Linked DNA regions of Homo sapiens. The protein of the gene in region 3 interacts with the protein of the main gene of each other region in a biochemical or structural test. Each region holds a gene or a part of one and is shown on either strand. Other genes may lie near its edges.

Evidence for each region. Proteins that work in one complex are often made in the same cells at the same time.
Region 1: the proteins of DLG4 (region 3) and CTNND2 interact in a test that uses a peptide from one of them, tested with the Homo sapiens proteins (2 studies listed by IntAct, with this or other methods).
Region 2: the proteins of DLG4 (region 3) and SEMA4C form a complex in vitro, tested with the Homo sapiens proteins (2 studies listed by BioGRID and IntAct, with this or other methods).

The regions. Positions count from the first base shown.
Region 1 is NC_000005.10:10,970,600-10,977,646, forward strand, and holds the end of CTNND2 (catenin delta-2), read right to left. Parts: intron 3,115-7,047; coding exon 2,854-3,114; 3' UTR 1,237-2,853; downstream 1-1,236. UniProt on the Homo sapiens protein: Has a critical role in neuronal development, particularly in the formation and/or maintenance of dendritic spines and synapses. Involved in the regulation of Wnt signaling.
Region 2 is NC_000002.12:96,859,345-96,867,280, reverse strand, and holds the end of SEMA4C (semaphorin-4C precursor), read left to right. Parts: intron 1-849; coding exon 850-998; intron 999-1,351; coding exon 1,352-1,414; intron 1,415-1,516; coding exon 1,517-1,615; intron 1,616-1,743; coding exon 1,744-1,840; intron 1,841-1,960; coding exon 1,961-2,077; intron 2,078-2,165; coding exon 2,166-2,317; intron 2,318-2,400; coding exon 2,401-2,576; intron 2,577-2,898; coding exon 2,899-3,043; intron 3,044-3,132; coding exon 3,133-3,355; intron 3,356-3,486; coding exon 3,487-3,599; intron 3,600-3,878; coding exon of another isoform or gene 3,879-3,923; exon of another isoform or gene 3,924-5,016; intron 5,017-5,386; coding exon 5,387-5,544; intron 5,545-5,631; coding exon 5,632-5,702; intron 5,703-5,825; coding exon 5,826-6,655; 3' UTR 6,656-7,563; downstream 7,564-7,936.
Region 3 is NC_000017.11:7,200,554-7,208,489, forward strand, and holds part of DLG4 (disks large homolog 4), read right to left. Parts: intron 7,687-7,936; coding exon 7,621-7,686; intron 6,719-7,620; exon of another isoform or gene 6,402-6,718; coding exon of another isoform or gene 6,378-6,401; intron 4,635-6,377; exon of another isoform or gene 4,393-4,634; intron 3,700-4,392; coding exon 3,646-3,699; intron 3,515-3,645; coding exon 3,455-3,514; intron 3,264-3,454; coding exon 3,139-3,263; intron 3,041-3,138; coding exon 2,871-3,040; intron 2,777-2,870; coding exon 2,640-2,776; intron 2,495-2,639; coding exon 2,350-2,494; intron 1-2,349. UniProt on the Homo sapiens protein: Postsynaptic scaffolding protein that plays a critical role in synaptogenesis and synaptic plasticity by providing a platform for the postsynaptic clustering of crucial synaptic proteins.

The DNA.
Region 1 (7,047 bases), on a different chromosome or scaffold from region 3:
GTATAGGGACTGTTTCTTAATCAGTCCCTGGTGACCAATACCCTCAAGAACAAAAAAAAAAGGGGGTCTGTGTTGTACATCTTATTAAGTGCATTGGGTTTTTATGGTCTACCATAGGGACTGAACAGAAAAAGAAATTTCCTCGCTTCCCCTCTTTCCTCTGAAAAACACCATTCCCATTTCTGTAGGAAAATTCAGGGTCTGGAGGCTCTTGTAGATGCAAGACACAGCCACTTGTGGGAGGGGGCCTTACTTACTTTCAGGACAATCAAAGCCAAAACAAAGGTTTCTTGTCACTTGGGGCTTTTATCCAATACATCCCATGTTACAAACAATAAATCACTGGCTGACCAACCTTCTTTGCCAAGGGAACCTGTGGGGGCTTTAGGCTATTTCATAGTTCAAGTAAGACCCCATCTATTGACTTACCTACCTCCATCTACCTATCCATCCACCATCTATCATCTATCTATAGCTATGTATTATCTGTCATCTCTCTCTCTCTCTCTCTGTCTATATCTATCCTCAATCTATTTGTATATGTGCCTAAAAAGGAAAAATGGATTGGCTTGAATAATTACAAACACTTTTAAATTTTTCCCACTATCTCTCCTTCTGATGCTGGAGGCTCCTAGCTGAGTCAGCTAATCACAGCCTGGCACAATGTGCTCTCAAAGAATTATGGGATGCAAAGACATCCTTGGTCTTCATGAGTCGCAAATGTAGGGCATGCATTAAGACTCAAAAATCATAAAGAAAATATACGGTTTCTACTAGGAGGAGGAATTCCATAGCACATTAATTCTGTGGCACAACTCCAACCAGAGAATGAGTCCTATTGCTTTCTTCTGGAAAGGTTAAGCCAGCCCTTATGTTATAGGGAAGTCATGTCCATATCACATTCTCTTTACTGTTGCATTGTATGATACAGATGAAGTGGAAACCCTGTCTTCAATGTGCCATGTTTCTCTCTCTCTAGAGGGTCTGAAGCATTCCTGTGAGGGAATCCAGAAATGTGGAGTCCTGTATGTCCAACTAGTACATAATTCACACATACATTTCTGTCTACTGCTCTATTCTGAAAGTTAACTTTTCATTTCCAAAACTATGCGTGAATTGACTATCATCATTTGATTGTTGTTAAATTTGGAGAAAGAACCATTTACTTGAGACTTGGAGCTGAATTAAACTATGTAGCGTGAAGGGAAGCCAGTTTTAAAGGACGATGGCAGCCAATTTCTTTTGTTACTGATGTTTTTATTTTTTCCAAGAACAGTTAACATTTACTAGGCACCTATTGGCCTCAGCCACTTGCATCTAAAGAGCAAAGCTAGTTTACCCGCGGCCCATGTTCTTTTCGATGGTTAGCCTTATTTCTTAGCTCTGTTAACCACTATTCTAACGTTAGCTTCAAGTTCAGTTTTAATAATCTATTCCATAGTTGTGTACTGCTCCCTGCCACATGAACAAAAAGTTTGGGGGAATAAGGCGAGCAGTTTACATTTTCTGTGGATACTTCAAGTAATTGGCCCCAAAGTGAAACTGAATTGGCCATGGTTTATCGTGTTCTGAGGGGATAAAATGTGTAAGGAAACGGACCTGTAGAGAGGGTTGATATCCAAGTATGCGTGAATGTGTGAAAATCCTATAACTCCACTTCAACTGGCCTAATATCCTGAGTCACTAGATGGTCAGAAGAATAGATACAGTACAAAAGGAACAAACTGATGTACATTTATACTAAAAAACCAAAAACAAAGTTTGTACAAGATGAACAGCAAATGAAATAGCTTCTGTCAAAATAAAATCTCACACAGGTAATTTTTCTAGTACGTGGACATACATACACCCACACACACAGACACACAAGCAAGAATGTGTATTTTGTAAGATATAGGTTCTTGGAAATAGACATTCTTAGCAAATATGGATGACAGATCAATTGTAATTTATTTTCTTTTAACACTGTATCATCATAAAGAAAACTGGTATAAATGAAAAAATCTATTTCAAATATCTACATCTAAAATTTTAGGCAGTGAAAAAGCACTTTGTTGACAAGGAGTGTGGAATGATGTATGTTAATTGTCAGAAACTGCTGAATGCCTTGTTTAGTTGTCACAAACAAATTCACATATCAGAACGAACAATACTGCTAAATATTCCTTTTTTCCTGCTTTTTTTTTTTTTTGTTAAAACATACTGGGAGAAAGTAAAGAAAAACTGGAAATCCATACATCTTTCAAAAGTTTGAAATTGAAGCAATATTTAGAACCATAGATGAGGAAACACGGCGGCATTGGTGTAATATACACAACGCGCTTTTCTTCTTTAATCTGTAATGTACATCAAATACTTTACAACAATGCATTAACAAAAGGCAAGAAACATCTTGCTGTACAGAGGAACCCCAATGCAACCTGAAGCCTAGAGTCACAACGGATGAAGAGAGTAAACAAAGCGTGAGAAGCCGTCCCCCACACAGTGTGTAAACTATTCTGTGTCTTGTGCTTAACGATAACCCTTACGCCCCACCGGCCCGAATGCCTCGTCTCTCCTCCCATCAACCACGTTCAGTATAAAGCACTTCTCGTTACTCTACAGCTCACGCTAGAAAGGTGCTGCCCACTGTCATATTTAGGATCACTTTAGCTTTCTACTGATTTCCAAGTTAACTTGCGATTCATTTAGCTTTCTAAAATAGCTCTTAATATTTCCTTACTGGTTATCACAGCCTTCCTATGGAACAGGCTTTAACAAACTAAATTTGCAGGAGAAAAAAACAAAACAGAAAGAAATGTCTTGTGGTATGCATGCACATGCACTGTTCCCGGAGCGCCTGTGCCCTGCTCCTCACACCCAGGAGTCGGGGGAGGCCGGGTAGTGGCTCGTTTCATAGTTCAGTTCACTGTAGGGACGGGCAGCTGAGTAGAAGTCAACGTAGTTGCCGGTGGACTTGAGACCCAGGTGCATGGTGTACTCGCTGGCGGGAGGGCGATGGTGGACCTGGTCCTCGAAGAAGGACTCATCGTAATTTCTTGTGGAATTCTGAAATGGCTGGTAGGTCTCGTAATCTTTTCTGCTGGGCTCCTGTGGGACTGGCTGTGCTGAAACCTAAACGGGAAAGAAGAGCCACACTGGGTTACTTGGTTTCCCTTGACTCAGCCTGCCTCTTGCCCCGGCACCCAACTCTCCTTCAAAGAATAGGCTGTGTATATCCAGGCATTCACCACTGTGGCCCTGCTTCTCCAAAACTGCCAACTGTCATTGGCTTTCCTTTTGAAAATTGGATCCTAGGTCCACGTGCTATCATTCTACATAATCTTTATCATGGCAAAATATACATAACATAAAACAGCTTGCTTTAAGAAATGTTGAAGTGTAAGATTAATTAGGTGGCATTAAGAACATTCACAGTGTTGTGCAACCATCACCACCATCCGTTTCCACCACTTTTTAAATCATCCCAAACAGAAACTCTGTGCCCATTAAATGTAATTCCTCATCCCCTCTCTCTCAGCCCATGGCAAGCACCATTCTACTTTCTGTCTCTAGAAATCTGCCTAATATAGGCACTGCAGAGAGTGTTTGTCCTTGTGTGACTGGCTTCTTTCACTTAGCATAAAGTTTGCATGGTCCATCCATGGTGTTGCACATGGCAGACCTTGATCCGTTTTTGTGGCTGAATAATATTCCACTGTATGATGTGCATTGCTCCACTGATGAATGCACTGAAGGCCATGACTTTACCTCAATGTAGCAAAACTGCACTTGCACCCCCATGATTGTATATATATAAGAATAAAATAGTCCATGGTATGCATAGACCACATTTTATTTATCCATTCATCCATTGATGGACGCTTGGGTTATTTTTACCTTTTAGCTGCTGTAAATAATGTTGCAATAAACATTGGTGCATTTGTATCTGTTCTAGTCCCTGGGGTCCCTTTTCAAGCACCTGCCCCTGAAATGAGCAGAACCTCCCAAGGTATAGGGTGAGGTTAACCCTACAGCAAGTGCATACCGGGATGCACAAAGCTCTGCTAATGTGCAGTAATTGGGGAGGAGATCTGGTGTGAATTATTAAACACTCTTAAAGAAATACTGTTTGATCACTTTTGGGTGGACTCAGTGACTCCCTATTAATTTAACTAAAGTTCAGCACGGAAACGTTCTCTAGAAATTGGTCTTAGTTAATAGATAATGATTTGTAATTAGCACGTTGTGTGTAAATGAATGCTTTTAAAGGCTTACACATAATTCTTCTCTCAAGTAAGTGAAACTCCCTCTTATATATGTCATTGATTTATACTAGTAATCAACCTGATCTTCAAAGAAGTGGTGAACTTCATCACAGCAGCTGTCTAGGATGTCCCACGTGTCTAGTTAGTGGTAGCTGAATGAATGAGGTTTCTGTCTACCTACAGAAGTCCAAAAGTCCATAGAGGATAAACCTTTGTTAGCCTGAGAGCTAACAAAGGATGAGAGGAACATTTGGAATGAATGTGCAACATCTGCAATTAAATACTGCTAAGTCCAGGTCTACTGGACTGCGTTGCTAGGTTGGGGTGCCCTTTGCTATTCTTTGAAGAGCTCTGCTTGTGTGCTGCTGAACTCCACTCCAACACAGGGCTGTTTTCCAAGTGCAAGACATGCAAAGGCTCAGAATCTAGAAGTTTGGAAAAATTATACAGGGAGGGAACTAGATTTGCTGTGTTTCTTGTTCAGCAGGGCACCCTATTCAACATTTAGCAAATTCTTTAATACTCCAGTAGTCATAAATATTTATGTGTGTTTGTGTCTGTCTACATCAATATCTATAATCTATCATCTGTCTGTCTTCCTATCCACCCACCAATCCATCCATCCATCCATCCCTCAAGCAAACTCCCACCTTATAGATGAGAAAACTGAAGCACAGAGAAGTTAAGAAACTTCTCCAAAACGTCATAGCTAGTGGTGTTGTGAACTGGAACTGGAACATACGGCTGGCTGACTCTAAAACCCAGGTGTTCTACCAACGTAGTCCAGTCCCATCAGAGCCAAGGTGGCCAAACCTTGGAGGACAGGCCTCAAGGAGCTGACTCTAGGCTCTAAGATAAGAAAGTCGGTGGACAAAAGAGACCAAGAAGCGGTGTGTTTTCTTATGGATTTTTGGGGGCCAGGGAAGGCAGTGCAGGGGACAGGGACATCTTCAGGAGGAGTCACTCACAAGGGTTATAGCTCTCCTCCAAAGTGGCTTCTGCTTTCATTTTTTTGGTTCTTTTGCACAACCTCGTTCAAATTGCTTTGACTGTTGTCATGTTCTCTCTGGTTGGTGAACATTTGGGAGCTGGGTATCAGCTTTTTCAGCCTCTTACCCCAGAGAATTAACTTCTTCATTCATCTGTACTGTTCATAAAATCCCACACCAATCACTTCTGAGGTTTGGTGCCCCAGTCCCAAAAGTGTGTACAAATGAACTGTCACAGGTGACACGTGTCACTGCTGCACCCGGAGAGACAGAATTTGCTCACTGTGGTATTTGCTCTTGTGGTATGGACATTTCTGTGGTATTTGCTCTTGTGGTATCTTGTGGTATTTGCTCTTGTGGTATGGACGTCTTGTGGTATTTGCTCTTGTGGTATGGACGTTTGCTGGTGAAACACATCCACAGTGGAGGAATATTGGCTGCATTTTAAACTTTAAGGGAATATCTGACAGTTGAAAATCTGGCTGATGAAATGACCCCTCCCAAAGCCCTCCTCACATAAGAGCTAAAAATAAATGCATTAAAAATTGCACAGTTTGCATCAGCCAGATTTGGATGAGGGATGTAGAATGATGCCCCAATAGAGCAGAGGGGATTTCTGAATCTGGGTGTCTGTTACGGTCTAGAGAAGCCCAGGAATACGCAAGCCCGAAGCTTTTGCCTTCTTTGCCTTAACGCTGCATCTTGTTTTGGAAAGGGGTGGTGACCAGCAGCTCACTCCAGGGTCAATATGCTCACGCTCTCTGCGCTCTGTTCCATGGCTTCTGTTTCTACCAAGTCATCTTTGCTGAACTTTTTCCTCAACAGTAGAATATTCACTCTAAATTATGAAGGATAGTGTCATGACACCTTCCAACTCTGTTAGCATAATGACAAAAGACTTCTTTGGGTTTATTCCTTAATGAATTTGCCAGGAAACTGGATTTATTTTGAACACAAGGGAAATAGTAGCCCAGTATAGCTCTTCCAACTTTTCCATGTCTCAGAGTGTTCATAGAAAGACTCAGAGTGTTCACAGAAAATGAAGGAGGCCAGATATGAAGTATCAGTGGTCTTCAAAGCATAATCCCAAGACCAGCAGCATCAGCATCACCTGGGAACTTGTTAGAAATGCAGATTACTGGGTCCCACTCCAGACCTACTGAATCAGGGCCTCTGGCGATGGGCCCCAGCAATCTGTGCTTTAACAGCCCTTTGGGGAATTCTGGCTCATGCTCCAATTTGAGAACCATTGGCACAGAGGTAAAAAAAATGGGACAGGAAGACAGAAGAACCAAGATGAGTATTTGCCTCTTCCTGGCTGGGGGACTGAAGGAAACACGTATCCTCCTGGGATCTCATCTTCCTCATTTCTGCAGACAATTACAACTGGCCTGCTCACGTGACAGTGGAACTAAGGACACCAGGAAGGAACTCAAGATTCCGGTTTTGTTATCATTTAAATATTGGTCATCAAAACAGCAAAGCTCTTTGTTTCTAGTTCCTGAACAAAAATCCTGTTGTCAGCTAGATAGATACCGTTCAACATGATATTTCTCTTTGTAATTATGGGGTGGACTGGTAGAAGCTCAAAAGGATGTTTGGAAAGTATGCATAGTTAAGTCTTTTTTTTTTTTTGAGACAGGGTCTCGCTTTGTCACTCAGGCTGGAGTGCAGTAGTGCAATTATGGCTCACTGTAGCCTCCACCTTCCAGGTTCAAGCCTTCCTCCTGCCTCAGCATCCCAGCTAGCTGGGACTACAGGCACACACCACCATGCCCAGCTAATTTTTGTATTTTTTGTAGACACACAGT
Region 2 (7,936 bases), on a different chromosome or scaffold from region 3:
TGTATCAGCCGTGCGCTCTGGGGACCTGGGATGAGCTCACCTCCCACAGGCTCCACTCGGGTGCCAGTGAAGCCCTGCCATGCCGGTCTGTGTCTGGATCCATTGTTGCCTGCAAAGACTAAGGCTGGTTTGGGGGGACCCTGAGGACAGGTCGGCAGCCATATTTGGCAGCTGATGTAGGAATCACGTGACTGTATAAATGTCGTAGTGCCCTGCATGCCGGGTGGCAGCAAGACTTCCCAGGCCCCAGCCCCATCTCCGCTCTCTGAGCCTCTGGTTTCTCCGGACCTCCCTGGCCTGGCTCACAGCCCAGCTCCCCTCCTGCCATCCCCACCTGTCCTAGTGGCCTGCTGTGCTCGCATCTCTGGCAGCCTGGATTGGGGTCCTGCTGGAGTGAAGGGTTTCCTGAGGCAGGGAGTACTCATAGCCGTCTGTGCCTCCTGCTCTGCTGGACTCTGATAGAGGCAGTGGGCAGCAGGGCAAAGAAGGAAGCAGCCGCCGAGGAAGCGAAGGTGGGGTGGGGGTGCCCAGCCCTGCGGCCGGAGGTGCCATTGACCCTGAGAGCAAGAGCCATCAGTCTGATGGCTTCCTCTGGCCGGAAGCTGTGGCTGAGATATCCTTCCTTCCTCCCAGCAGCCTGGATTTGCCTCCTCCCAGGCTGGGAAAGGCTAGGGAGGCCCAGGTGGGGCTGTCAGGGCCAAAGGCTGTTTCAAAAGTGTCCTTTATTGCCAATCAGGGGGTTTGGCTGGCATCTGCTTGTGGCATGGGGTGCTGGCTCTCGTGGAGCAAGACTGAGGGCTGTCGAGCCCCAGGGGTCCTGCCCATCAGCAGCCATGCTTACCCCTGCAGAGCTGGCCACGGTAGTACGGCGGTTCTCCCAGACCGGCATCCAGGACTTCCTGACACTGACGCTGACGGAGCCCACTGGGCTTCTGTACGTGGGCGCCCGAGAGGCCCTGTTTGCCTTCAGCATGGAGGCCCTGGAGCTGCAAGGAGCGGTGAGAGGTGGGGCAGTGGGAGGCAGTCGGGCCTGCCAGAGGGCAAGGCCCAGAGGGGCTGTGCTTGGCTAGGTGGTCCCTCAGCCTGGCTGCCCCCACAGAAGTGCTGCTGGGCATCCGGGGCCTGCCCTCTGGTTGGGGTCAGCATGCGGCATTCCTCTCCTCTCTGGCACTTACTGAATTCTGTGTAGTGGGGTGGTTTGGGGCTTCCATTCTGTACTAAAGGAAGTCCCCAGAGAATAGGGACCATGCCTCTGCACTGGGCGTCCCTGTGTTGCTGCTGCAGGCTGTGCTTGTGACACGTGCTCAGTCCGTACCTGTAACGTGGCTGACATCCCCTTCCCTTTCCCCAGATCTCCTGGGAGGCCCCCGTGGAGAAGAAGACTGAGTGTATCCAGAAAGGGAAGAACAACCAGGTGGGTGCTTGGACGCTGCTCCTGGTGCTGCCTTCACCCCAGGACGTCTCCTCCCATTCTGGCCCTCGCGCTCTCACTAACCGGACACCTTTCTGCCCCCAGACCGAGTGCTTCAACTTCATCCGCTTCCTGCAGCCCTACAATGCCTCCCACCTGTACGTCTGTGGCACCTACGCCTTCCAGCCCAAGTGCACCTACGTCGTGAGTGCTGCCCTCCTACCTCGGTGTCCCCAGCCCCCCGCCCTCCTCACCCTTCTCTGGACTCGTGGATGTGGCCCACAGAGCCCTGCCCTTAAGCATCTCCTCATCACCTCTCTCTCTGTCCTTAGAACATGCTCACCTTCACTTTGGAGCATGGAGAGTTTGAAGATGGGAAGGGCAAGTGTCCCTATGACCCAGCTAAGGGCCATGCTGGCCTTCTTGTGGGTGAGTGGCTGCCCCCCATGCAGGCTGGGTGAGTCCTTGGGGCTTGGTTCCACTTGGGTCTGTGTTGGCCGGATGTGTCCATACCTCATGTGTGGCCTAGCTGACCTCTGTCTCCCATAGATGGTGAGCTGTACTCGGCCACACTCAACAACTTCCTGGGCACGGAACCCATTATCCTGCGTAACATGGGGCCCCACCACTCCATGAAGACAGAGTACCTGGCCTTTTGGCTCAACGGTGAGCCACCGGGGGGCCTGTGGGAGCCATGGGTGGGAGGTCCCCCGGGGCCCAGCCCCTCCCTGCTGACCTCCTCCCCTTCCCACAGAACCTCACTTTGTAGGCTCTGCCTATGTACCTGAGAGTGTGGGCAGCTTCACGGGGGACGACGACAAGGTCTACTTCTTCTTCAGGGAGCGGGCAGTGGAGTCCGACTGCTATGCCGAGCAGGTGGTGGCTCGTGTGGCCCGTGTCTGCAAGGTACCGAGTCTCACAGCGGTGGGCCCTGGGAGCCCTGCTGGCCCAGCGGGGCTGACCGGCAGTGTCCCCTTGCCGTCTGCCAGGGCGATATGGGGGGCGCACGGACCCTGCAGAGGAAGTGGACCACGTTCCTGAAGGCGCGGCTGGCATGCTCTGCCCCGAACTGGCAGCTCTACTTCAACCAGCTGCAGGCGATGCACACCCTGCAGGACACCTCCTGGCACAACACCACCTTCTTTGGGGTTTTTCAAGCACAGTGGTGAGTTGGCCAGGGCTCCCACAGAGTGGGGAGGAGCTGGGGTTCAGGTCAGGGACGGTGCATGGGTGGGAGCCTGGACCAGGCCTCAGAGGCAGTCCCGGAAGCCAGGTGTCCAGAAGCCAAGGAGAATGCTGGCACCTGCCCCTTTCAGAGCTGCCTGTGAAGGGGCAGGGCCCCATGCCAGGTGGCACTTGAGCTGCCAGGGCATTCTGGTACCCATGGCCAGTTTGTGCCAGGCCCTGCCTTCCTGCTGCTTGCCCTTAGCTGGGGTGGGAAGAGATAAGGTGGGTACCTGACCCTGGGCTCCCTCTCGCTGTGACAGGGGTGACATGTACCTGTCGGCCATCTGTGAGTACCAGTTGGAAGAGATCCAGCGGGTGTTTGAGGGCCCCTATAAGGAGTACCATGAGGAAGCCCAGAAGTGGGACCGCTACACTGACCCTGTACCCAGCCCTCGGCCTGGCTCGGTGAGTGCTAGGGCAGGGATGCATCTCCCCACCCAGCTGCGGTGCCATCCCACCCTGCTGATGGCCTGCCCCCCACACCCTGCCCCCAGTGCATTAACAACTGGCATCGGCGCCACGGCTACACCAGCTCCCTGGAGCTACCCGACAACATCCTCAACTTCGTCAAGAAGCACCCGCTGATGGAGGAGCAGGTGGGGCCTCGGTGGAGCCGCCCCCTGCTCGTGAAGAAGGGCACCAACTTCACCCACCTGGTGGCCGACCGGGTTACAGGACTTGATGGAGCCACCTATACAGTGCTGTTCATTGGCACAGGTGGGTGCATGGGTATGCAGGCATGGCTGCTCAAGGCTGGGCAGAAGCCCGTGTGCCCAGGGCAGGGAGATTTGGAGCTGCCCCACGGCCTTGTGCCCTCTCATTTACACCTTCTCCTCTGCACCCCCCAGGAGACGGCTGGCTGCTCAAGGCTGTGAGCCTGGGGCCCTGGGTTCACCTGATTGAGGAGCTGCAGCTGTTTGACCAGGAGCCCATGAGAAGCCTGGTGCTATCTCAGAGCAAGGTAGTAAGTTGGGCCCTATCTGCCACTGTCCCCAGCACTATCCCATCTCACTCTCTCCATCTGGCTGCTTCTCCCAGTTGGGCCTATGTGCTTGGCCAGTGCAGAGTTAGGAACACACACACATGTGGATGCACACCTTGCCTAACTTGGGGTGGGTTCCTGGAAACGAGAATGAAAACAGAATGGAATCTGCACTGCACAGGGCCATTATATATAGCCAGGTCACGGGGCTGCGCTCCCAGCATCAAGCCTTGGCAACTGCTCCCATGTTTCTTTCAGACCCTCCAAGCTGTGCTGTGGTTCTGGCTCTGGCCTCTTCCCTGACCATGCCCCTGTGACCAGACCTCCCAGGCTGTGAGATGTTTATGATGCCCTCACCATGGTGGTTTTCCTTCCAGCCCCCATTTCCGTGACTGTTTCCCTGAAGTGCTTGCATTATACCCTTGTGCAATACTCTTTTTGGTTTTTTTTTGAGATGGAGTCTCACTCTGTCACCCAGGCTAGAGTGCAGTGACGCGATCTCAGCTCACTGCAACCTCCACCTCCCAGGTTGAAGCTATTCTTATGCCTCAGCCTCCTGAGTAGCTGGGATTACAGGTGCCTGCCACTATGCCCAGCTAAAGGTTTTTTGTTTTTGTTTTTGTTTTCTTTGAGATGGAGTCTCACTCTGTCGCCCAGGCTGGAGTGCGGTGGCATGATCTCTGCTCACTGCAACCTCCACCTCCCGGGTTCAAGCAATTCTGCCTCGGCCTCCCAAGTAACTGGGACTACAGGCACGTGCCACCATGCCCAGCTAATTTTTTTTTTTTTTTTTTTTTTTGAGATGGAGTCTCGCTCTGTCACCCAGGCTGGAGTGCAGTGGCGCAATCTCGGCTCACTGCAAGCTCTGCCTCCCAGGTTCACACCATTCTCCTGCCTCAGCCTTCCATGTAGCTGGGACTACAGGCTCCCATCACCACGCCTGGCTAATTTTTTGTATTTTTAGTAGAGACGGGGTTTCACCGTGTTAGCCAGGATGGTCTCGATCTCCTGACCTTGCGATCCGCCCGACTCAGCCTCCCAAAGTGCTGGGATTACAGGCGTGAGCCACTGCGCCTGGCCAGCCGGCTAATTTTTGTATTTTTAGTAGAGACAAGGTTTTACCATGTTGGCCAGGCTGGTCTTGAACTCCTAACCTCAAGTGATTTGCCCACCTCAGCCTCCCAAAGTGCTGGGATTCCAGGCATGACCTGCTGTTCCTAGTTGCCTTGTGCAATACTCTTGTGGCATGTTTGCTACACCTCCTGAACTTTGATTTGTTTGCCTTTTACCAGCTATTATGACTCAAAATTGTCCCCTAGAACATGGAATAATGGCAGAAAGAAAGTGTGTGGTTGAATAAACACACAGATTGGCATCCACCGTTGAAACAGGAAAACATCTTATGTTATGCTGCTGCTGTTGTGAGGGCTGATGGGCCTTGAAATGTATTTCCTGCACTATGTGTGTGTGAGTGTGTGTGATTATACTTTTTGGCCTCACAGCCCCATCATCCCTTTCTAATAACGTCACGTCGATAAGGGGCTTAGGATTGCATCTGGCCTGTGTAAGCCCTCTGAGTTCTGCGGTTCTTAGAGTTCCCTTTTCAGCACTATAGCTCTGCCTTGTTCCCTTGTTCCTCCTTCTGGCGCCCCGTGCTGTGCCCCCTGCAGGAGTCCAAGCTGTCCCCATGCTGCGTTCTGGTCCGGCCGCCCCTCCCGTGGTGTGGCCCTGGCCGACCCCCCTCCTGCGCCCCGCTTTTCTCGCAGAAGCTGCTCTTTGCCGGCTCCCGCTCTCAGCTGGTGCAGCTGCCCGTGGCCGACTGCATGAAGTATCGCTCCTGTGCAGACTGTGTCCTCGCCCGGGACCCCTATTGCGCCTGGAGCGTCAACACCAGCCGCTGTGTGGCCGTGGGTGGCCACTCTGGGTGAGTTGGGCTCTACATAGGCCAGGACCTCCAGGGACTCAGGGTGGTTGGAGCCAGGCTGCTGATGTACCCTACATCCCCTACCAGATCTCTACTGATCCAGCATGTGATGACCTCGGACACTTCAGGCATCTGCAACCTCCGTGGCAGTAAGAAAGGTGAGCTTTTTCATTCCCGTCGCATCGGGCTGAGCCCTGGACCAGAGCTGGAGTTTCTGTTCTCCTCTTCCCCAGCCCTGCTTTCCTGCACTAACATGCACTCTGTTTTCTCTGCCACTACAGTCAGGCCCACTCCCAAAAACATCACGGTGGTGGCGGGCACAGACCTGGTGCTGCCCTGCCACCTCTCCTCCAACTTGGCCCATGCCCGCTGGACCTTTGGGGGCCGGGACCTGCCTGCGGAACAGCCCGGGTCCTTCCTCTACGATGCCCGGCTCCAGGCCCTGGTTGTGATGGCTGCCCAGCCCCGCCATGCCGGGGCCTACCACTGCTTTTCAGAGGAGCAGGGGGCGCGGCTGGCTGCTGAAGGCTACCTTGTGGCTGTCGTGGCAGGCCCGTCGGTGACCTTGGAGGCCCGGGCCCCCCTGGAAAACCTGGGGCTGGTGTGGCTGGCGGTGGTGGCCCTGGGGGCTGTGTGCCTGGTGCTGCTGCTGCTGGTGCTGTCATTGCGCCGGCGGCTGCGGGAAGAGCTGGAGAAAGGGGCCAAGGCTACTGAGAGGACCTTGGTGTACCCCCTGGAGCTGCCCAAGGAGCCCACCAGTCCCCCCTTCCGGCCCTGTCCTGAACCAGATGAGAAACTTTGGGATCCTGTCGGTTACTACTATTCAGATGGCTCCCTTAAGATAGTACCTGGGCATGCCCGGTGCCAGCCCGGTGGGGGGCCCCCTTCGCCACCTCCAGGCATCCCAGGCCAGCCTCTGCCTTCTCCAACTCGGCTTCACCTGGGGGGTGGGCGGAACTCAAATGCCAATGGTTACGTGCGCTTACAACTAGGAGGGGAGGACCGGGGAGGGCTCGGGCACCCCCTGCCTGAGCTCGCGGATGAACTGAGACGCAAACTGCAGCAACGCCAGCCACTGCCCGACTCCAACCCCGAGGAGTCATCAGTATGAGGGGAACCCCCACCGCGTCGGCGGGAAGCGTGGGAGGTGTAGCTCCTACTTTTGCACAGGCACCAGCTACCTCAGGGACATGGCACGGGCACCTGCTCTGTCTGGGACAGATACTGCCCAGCACCCACCCGGCCATGAGGACCTGCTCTGCTCAGCACGGGCACTGCCACTTGGTGTGGCTCACCAGGGCACCAGCCTCGCAGAAGGCATCTTCCTCCTCTCTGTGAATCACAGACACGCGGGACCCCAGCCGCCAAAACTTTTCAAGGCAGAAGTTTCAAGATGTGTGTTTGTCTGTATTTGCACATGTGTTTGTGTGTGTGTGTATGTGTGTGTGCACGCGCGTGCGCGCTTGTGGCATAGCCTTCCTGTTTCTGTCAAGTCTTCCCTTGGCCTGGGTCCTCCTGGTGAGTCATTGGAGCTATGAAGGGGAAGGGGTCGTATCACTTTGTCTCTCCTACCCCCACTGCCCCGAGTGTCGGGCAGCGATGTACATATGGAGGTGGGGTGGACAGGGTGCTGTGCCCCTTCAGAGGGAGTGCAGGGCTTGGGGTGGGCCTAGTCCTGCTCCTAGGGCTGTGAATGTTTTCAGGGTGGGGGGAGGGAGATGGAGCCTCCTGTGTGTTTGGGGGGAAGGGTGGGTGGGGCCTCCCACTTGGCCCCGGGGTTCAGTGGTATTTTATACTTGCCTTCTTCCTGTACAGGGCTGGGAAAGGCTGTGTGAGGGGAGAGAAGGGAGAGGGTGGGCCTGCTGTGGACAATGGCATACTCTCTTCCAGCCCTAGGAGGAGGGCTCCTAACAGTGTAACTTATTGTGTCCCCGCGTATTTATTTGTTGTAAATATTTGAGTATTTTTATATTGACAAATAAAATGGAGAAAATGAAACGATTGCTCTGATGGGGCTAAGATGTTTGGGCTAAAGCCTTTCTGGGTACCAAGAGGGAAGGCTCTCTGGGTGGAGGGAGGCTGGACTGGGCCTCCCCCACAATCCCAGGGCAGCCACCACTTTTGTGGTCCCTGCCTGCCTGTGGGAGGGGACAGCCCAGCTCTAGTGTTTTCCCACAGTGGTGGCTGCGGGGCTGGGAACGAGACCATGGCCATAGCCCCTTGGGAGCCAGCCTTGGCTTCTGGCCAGAAGGAGAAGTCAGGGCACTGGGAGTCCAGGGGAGAAGCGGAGTGGTGGGGGGGGTGCCTTCCCAGAACTCAAGACGGGTAGTGGGAATGAGGGGCCAAAGGAGTGGAAGGTTGTGGAGATGAGATCATTGCTTGTGTGAGGATG
Region 3 (7,936 bases):
GTCGTTTTTTGAGACAGAGTTTCACTCTTGTTGCCCAGGCTGGAGTGCAATGGCGCGATCTCAGCTCGCCGCAACCTCCGCCTCCCAGGTTCAAGCAATTCTCCTGCCTCAGCCTCCTGAGTAGCTGGGATTGCAGGCATGCACCACCATGCCCGGCTAATTTTGTATTTTTAGTAGAGATGGGGTTTCTCCATGTTGGTTAGGCTGGTCTCGAACTCCCAACCTCAGGTGACTCACCCATCTCGGCCTCCCAAAGTGCTGGGATTACAGGCATGAGCCACCGGCGCGCCCAGCCTGTTTTGGTTTTTTTTTTTTTTTTTTTTTGAGATGGAGTCTCGCTCTATCGCCCAGGCTGGAGTGCAGTGGTGAGATCTTGGCTCACTGCAAGCTCCGCCTCCCAGGGTCAAGGAATTCTCCTGTCTCAGCCTCAGGATTAGCTGGTATTACAGGCGCTCGCCACCACACCCAGCTAATTTTTTTTTGTATTTTTAGTAGAGACAGCGTTTCTCCATGTTGGCCAGGCTGTTCTCAAACTCCTGACCTCAGGTGATCCGCCCGCCTTGGCCTCCCAAAGTGTTGGGATTACAGGCATGAGCCACCTCGCCCAGCCAACAAATAGCCACATTCTTAACTTTGCATATTTTTCCAGTTAATTCACTTAGATTTTGATCTAGATGCACAGTAGTATAATTTACAAATAGAGATAACTTTTGTTTTTCCCTTCCAAATGTAACTATTCTCCTTGTCTTGTTACACTGTCTGAAATCTCTAAAGCAGTGATTCTCAACCACCATAATTTCGCTGGGGCAATTCTGTCATAACATTTTTTAATTGTTATGACTGAGGGGGAGGAGTACCATTGTCATCTGATAGACAGAGGCCAGGGATGCTGCTTAATATCCCACAAGGCACAGAACAACCCCCCACAATGAAGAGTTATTGGGTCCAAAAATGTCAGGAGTAACACTGAGAAACCCTGCTCTAAAGCAATGAAGAATAATAGCAGTGGGAAGAGGCATCCCTGCCCTCTTTGTAAGTTAACGGAGGCCGGGCGCGGTGGCTCACGCCTGTAATCTCAGCACTTTGGGAGGCCGAGGAGGGCAGATCACCTGAGGTCAGGCATTCGAGACCAGCCTGGCCAACATGGTGAAACCCTGTCTCCACTAAAACTACAAAAATTAGCCAGGCGTGATGGTGGGCACCTGTAATCCCAGCTACTCGGGAGGCCGGGGCAGCAGAATCACTTGAACCTGGGAGGCAGAGGTTGCAGTCAGCTGAGATCACACCACTGCACTCCAGCCTGGGCAAGAAGAGCGAAACTCCATTTCAAGAAAAAAATTAAAATTAAATTAAAAAATAAGTTAATGGACACACTGCTAAAATTGTATCATTATAAAATGTTTGTTACTGGTTCCTGATAACTAGTCTTCACCATCTTAAGGAAAATTTCTGTGTTCCTAGTTTACTAAAAGCTTTCATCCAAAAGAGATGGTGAATTTCACCAAATGCCTTTTTCACGTCTATTTAAGATAATCACATCGTTTTCTCCTCTCGCTCTGTCACCCAGTCTGGTGGGCAGTGGCGCAATCATTGGCTTACTGCAGCTTCCAACTCCTCGGCTCAAGCGATCCTCCAGCCTCAGCCTCCCAAGTAGCAAGGAGTATAGGCACGTGCTAATTTTTTTAATTTTTTTAGAGACAGGATCTCGCTTTGTTGCCTAGGCTGGTCTCAAATCCCTAGCTGGTCTCAAATCCTCCCACTTTGGCCTCCCAAGTGCTGGGATTACAAGCATGAGCCACCACACTTAGCCTCCCGTAACGTTTTAATATATGAATCATATTAAGAGATTTCCTAATATTGAGCCATCTTTAGTTTTCTGAAACAAACCCTATGTTATTCCCTTAACATGCTGCCATGTTTGCTTTGCTACTATATTATTGTAAACTCTTGTATCTCTATTCAGAAGCAAAACGGGTCTATACTCTCCTTATTTTACACTATCCTTGTGACCATTCGAACTGGCCTTATAAAATGAAATGTGAAATCTTTTATCTTTTCCTGTACTCTGGAAGAGCAGAAGAATTATCTATTCCTTGAGAATTTCACAAAATTAGCCATAAAACCAACCAGGCTTTGTGCCTTCCAGGAGAGAGATCGTTGACGATCTTTTCTAGTTCTTTTATGGTAATTGATTTTCCATCTCTTCTCCAACAACAGCAAGGATCAGAGGTTGTGGCTATTTCATAGGGAATATCTGAAGAGGGACAGCTACAGGGATGTCGTGGGACTGCATGTCATGGGTTAAACGGGATGGGTCATGGGGAACTTTGGTGTTTGAAGGGCTCTCACAGGTTGTGATGTCTGGGGGAGCATAGCTGTCACTCAGGTAGGCATTGCTGGGCTTGGCCACCTTTAGGTAGACAACATCATACGTGTTCTTCAGGGCTGCCACAGCATCTTCATGCATGACGTCCTCTAGCCCCACACTGTTGACCTGGAGTCAAGGAAAGCAAAGCTCAGACAAAGCCACAAATGGCCCAAGACAGAAGCACTGGGGTGAAGTGATGAACTTGGGCCTGCCAGGGCTAGTAGGTGAGACCCAAATCTGGGCTAGAAAATGGGCTAGATGGAGTCCTCACCGCCAGGATCTTGTCTCCAATCTGCAACCTCCCATCCTTGTGGGCAGCACCCCCTTCGATGATCTTTGTTACATAGATGCTATTATCTCCTGGGATGTGCTGGTTCCCTACGCCCCCTGCGATGCTGAAGCCAAGACCTGGATGGAGGGGAGGCCAGAGGTGGGTGCCCAGGAAGCAGGCTTGGGGGCACAGGACAGTTGGGATGGGGGTGGGAACAAAATGAGTTACTACCTTTAGGCCCCTTGATGAGCTTGATCTCCATGACCTTCTCAGCCGGGGGCTTCCGGCGCATGACATAGAGGCGAACGATGGAGCCTGCCTCTTTGAGGGCTTCCACCGCCGCTGAGTGGGTCACCTCGCGCACGTCCACTTCATTTACAAACAGGATGCTGTCGTTGACCCTGGGAGCAGCAAGGTGGGCCTGAGCCAAGAGCTTCCTGCTGCCCTGGCCCTCCCTCTCCAGGGACCAAGCAACCTAACCCCTGTCTCCTCTCCCCACCTGAGGCGGCCATCCTGGGCCGCAGCCCCACCAGGAATGATCTTGGTGATGAAAATGGATGGGTCGTCACCGATGTGTGGGTTGTCAGTGCCACCTGCGATGCTGAAGCCCAGACCTGAGTTACCCTGGGTGAAGGAGGGGAAGAGGGTCAGCTCCCCTCACTGCCCAAGTCTGGCAAGGCAAGTGGGGTGGGAAATGGCTTGGAGCAGCCAGAGGAGGAAGGCACAGGGTGAGGGGCTAGCCACCCAGACCACATGGCAGAAAGAAAGGTACAGACGGGAGGCCACGGGGACTGCCGATGGAGGAGCCTGCTCACCCTTTCCAATGTGATTTCCTCGTATTCCATCTCCCCCTCGGTCCCGTTCACCTGCAACTCCAGCACGGGACAGAAACACAAAAGCAGTGAGACAGACATTCCTGTCTGACCACCTGCCCGTCATCTGCTGCCCTCCCTTACTCCCTCCTTCCTTCTGCAATGGCCCCAGCCCCAAAATCTAAACAACTCACATATCCTGGGGCTTCTAGGGTATCTGTGTTGACAATCACTGGGGGAGAATTGGCCTGTTTGGGAAAACAAGAGACAAAAAGCAGCCTGAGCCTTGACTCGAGAGGGAGCCCATAACGGAGGGTCCCATCAGCGTGGCTACCCTTTCAGCCTCTTAGCCAAGCCCACTCCGCCACCCTGAGAGCTGCTCAAGGGCCCAGCCTCAATCCACATCACACACACGCACACGCGTGCACATGCGCACGCGCACACACACGCACAGATGCACACGCGCAAGGATCTAACTCTGCCCAGCCCGGGGCCCCCTGCATGTGGAAGGAGGTGTAGGAGAAGCGGGAAGGGAGACAGCCAGACGGAGAGGGGAGCAGCAGATGGCAAAGAGTGGGGAGAGGGGGGTAGGCTTGGGGGAAGGGAGCTTCTCACCGGATGTAACACCACAGGGTGTTACATGCCTTATGTGCTACACATGGACACCCCAGGGATCATGTCCACCGGGTCCTGGTCCCCATTTCCTGCCCCATCCCCCCAACCCCCCATATCTACCCAGATATTTTCATAACCCTCCCCTAGACTTGCCCCTCACTTTCACAGACATTTGCCCTAAACCCTGCACCCCGGGAATCCGGGGTTCCCCAGCTGCAGGCCCCTCCCTCGGTCTCACCAACCAGCCGTCCAATCCACCCCTTCCTCTAAGGACCGTGTTGCCTAGCAACGGTATCTAGGACCAGTCAAGACCCGGGGAGACCCACCTCCAGGAGGCCCTGTCGTCAGGACAACAGGGGGGTGGGGCGTGGCCTGGGGCCGACCAAACTCCTGAGCGCAGAAGGGATCCGCTAGCCCCGCCTCTCCTGCCCTGGGCCCCGCCCCACGTTAGCCAGGCCGAGAGGAGGCCGGGCTGAAGAGGTTTGTGGGCGCAGCGCATCCTGAATAACCTGCCTTCCTCGCTCCCCTACGCCCCTCACCCTACGCAGTGCAAAGGACGTCAGGAACTGGGAGTGGTGAAAGACATCCGGGTCCTATCCCGCTCATCTACTCCCTCCCCCCACTTCATTCGGGAAAGGGTTAAAGTGGGGCGTGCCCAGGTCCCTGACGTCAATCGCCTGGTCTCTAGACTCCCAGGCGGGGCCCGCTTTAGCCCGGTCCTAGGGGCTTCCCCAATTGCCAGGGCAACCGAAGCCACGTCTCTATGGCAATGGGGGGAGGCCGCCAAGAGCCTCCTTCCGGGGTCCCCAACCTACTTCCTCCTTAAAGAAACATGTATTTGCAGTCGCCCAAGCGCAAGGATTCCCCAGTCTCCTTCCCGCTCTCCCCGTCCAAAGGGGTCCCTCCCCTCTCCTACTGCTATTTCTCAAGCCTACAAACTACCGACCATTTTCAAGCTGTATCACAGATTTCACACCCATAAATCTATTAACACCACCCTCCAACCCTTCACATATCAGCAAATGCTGTTGTCCAACCAACAGTCACTGACTGCCAAAATCTCATCCACGTGTTCATCCCCCATCCCACAGCCCGTCCCCCATCCCACAGCCCGTCCCCCATCCCGCAGCCCGTCCCCCATCCCGCAGCCCGTCCCCCATCCCGCAGCCCGTCCCCCATCCCGCAGCCCGTCCTCCATCCCATAGCCCGTCCTCCATCCCATAGCCCATCCTCAATCCCCATCCCCATCCCTATCCTGGAACCTCCTTCCCAGCACACCCACCTTCATCCACTACGACATTCATTTGCTTCCCATCCCTATCTCTGCCCGCATCCCACATGCTCCATCTCCATCCCTGTCTCGCCCTTCAACATCCATCTTCCAACCCCAGCCTCCATTCTCCATCCGCTTCCCTGGCCCTGTCGCACCCTCCAGCCCCATCCCTTACCAATGTGGCCTCATCCTCCATCCCAATTTCTTTTTTTCCAGAGACAAGGTCTCGCTGTGTCACCCAGGCTGGAGTGCAGTGGTGTGATCATAGCTCACTGCGGCCTTGAACTCCTGGGCTCAAGCAGTCCTCCCACCTCAGCCTCCTGAGTAGCTACAGGCACATGCCACCCCACCCAGCTACTCCATCTCAATTTCTGATTCCCCAGAGAGTTTATCACCATTCTCCCTTACCCTACCTTCATACCCTCAAGATTATTCTCAAGTAACAATCTTACACTTCTCAATCAACTCCCCTCTCTTCTGAAAATTGGGGCTTCTCCTGTTCCCCAGGTGAGGCCTTGTCCTGAGACCTCCACCCCATGCTTATGGCCTCCAACACTCTCTCCCTCCACCCCCTTCTGCTCCTGAGCTCTGATCAGCAGCAGCTCTGTACTAACTACCACCCCTCAGGCTCCCTACCTCCTCTTCCCCCTGCTCAGGGATTTAATGGCCCTGCCTTGCACAAAGCATCTCTAGTCTTCTTTCCCTCACTCCTAGCATCCACAGAATTCGCACAAACACTCTGTACCATCCCTGTCTCCAGGGCCTTCCTTTCCTTGCTCTGTCAGCCTCATTCACTGCCCTGATCTCACAGTCTTATCCCTATCTGGCCCCTGACCCAGGACCTCTTACCCTTCCTATCCCCCAACTCCTCTCTTGCCAGTTCTAACTCCAGAACCTGCTTGCCCGCTCCCTAGGCTCAGAGACCTCCTCCCCATCTTCTTGGTGAAATGTCAGCAACCTCCCCCTTCCCAGAGCATCCCACAACATCCTAGAATCCCCACCCTGACCCCACAGTGTCCCCTCAATCTCACAGCTTGCCTGGTGCTCTCCAGTCCTCCCCATCCTGTGTCCCCAGAAGAGGAGATGGAGGAAGGGGAAGATGGAAAGTGGACTGGAGAATGGAAGGTCCCAGAAACCAGGCCTCCCGGGACTGGAGAGAGGAGGACGCTGTGAGCAGAGAGGAGAAAGGGAAACAGGTGGTGGGGGATGATGGAGGGGGCAGAGGGGGATAGAAAGAAGATATGGCAGAGGTGAGAACCCAAGAGGATGAGAGAGGGGAGGAGGAAAAGAGGGAAGGTGAAGATGAATAGGCAAGAGGGAACATGGGAAAGGGGAGCTGGCTGATGGAGGGAGAGGACTGATGAGGGAAAGGACTGATCAGGCCCCAGCGGCCTGGGCTGGGGATCAGGGAGAGGGAGAGGAGAATGCGTGGGAGGAAGAGAGAGACAGCATCAAGAGCCAGCCAGCCAGCCAGCCAGCAGGGAGGAAAGGCTGCAGAGGGGGAAGAGAACTCAGGAGTGGAGCAAAGCTGGGGCAGGGGACGAGGCAGCAAGGCCCCACCATGTGAAGTCTCAGGCCAGACAGATGGAAAGAGCTGGAGACTTGGGGACAGGGCGAGCCAGGCCCAGAGGCGGAGGTAGGGGGAGGAGGCGGGGAAGGGACAAGAGCAAATGAGGGCAGCAGGCGCTTGGAACAGAGCTCTGGACACAGAAAATGGAAATGGAGGTTGGGGGTGTGAAGGAATGAAGAGGTCCCAGGCGTGGGGGCCTCTTGGGGGATGCACACACCTCAACACACACGCATACAGCACACGCACAGGCACACAAACGGCGCACGCACGCACACACACACACAGCACACACACAGGCACGCATGCATGCACACACGCACAGGCACACACACAGCACACGCGCACAGGCACGCGCGCACACACACATTCTTGCTTTAGGCTTTACATCCACTCCCATTGGCCTGGCCTGTTTCTCCTCTGTGGGACCAAGGTGTTTCCAGCCCCACAAACGCCCCCTCCCCCAGACCCCAGGAGCCCAAGCCCCAAACCCCCGCCCCCAGTCCCAGCATCCCCCTCCCCACGGCTCTCTCTCACCCTACCGGCCCTTAGGGATTGCTGCAGCTCCGAGGCTCCGAGGGCCGCACTGGGGAGGGGGCCACCAGGGTCTCCTACCTTGAAGGGGGAGAGGTGGGCGTGGCCCACGACCCCGTGGCCAGCCTCGAGGTGGGACAAGTTCCTCTCCGCCACGTGCACCAGCTCGGGGGCGTTTACCTGGTTGGGGAGGTGGGCCGGGCTGTGCTCCAGAGGGGGCGTGTCTTCATCTTGGTAGCGGTATTTCTGGGGATGGGGACGGAGGTGTCACTGGGGCCAGCCCGGTGCCTCAGGCTCCAGGCTGGCCGCCCTGGCCGCCGCCTCTTCCCCCAGCCAGTGCAGTGCGGAAGGCCCTGGGGCCTGACCAGCTCCTCCCCCTCCCTCTCCTCTAGCCCATTGGCTCCCCTCTCTCCACTCTCCCAACAGCCCCCTCTCCCGCCAGGGCCTCAGCACCTCTCATCAATCCCCAGGTCCCAATCCCATCCCCCAACTCCTA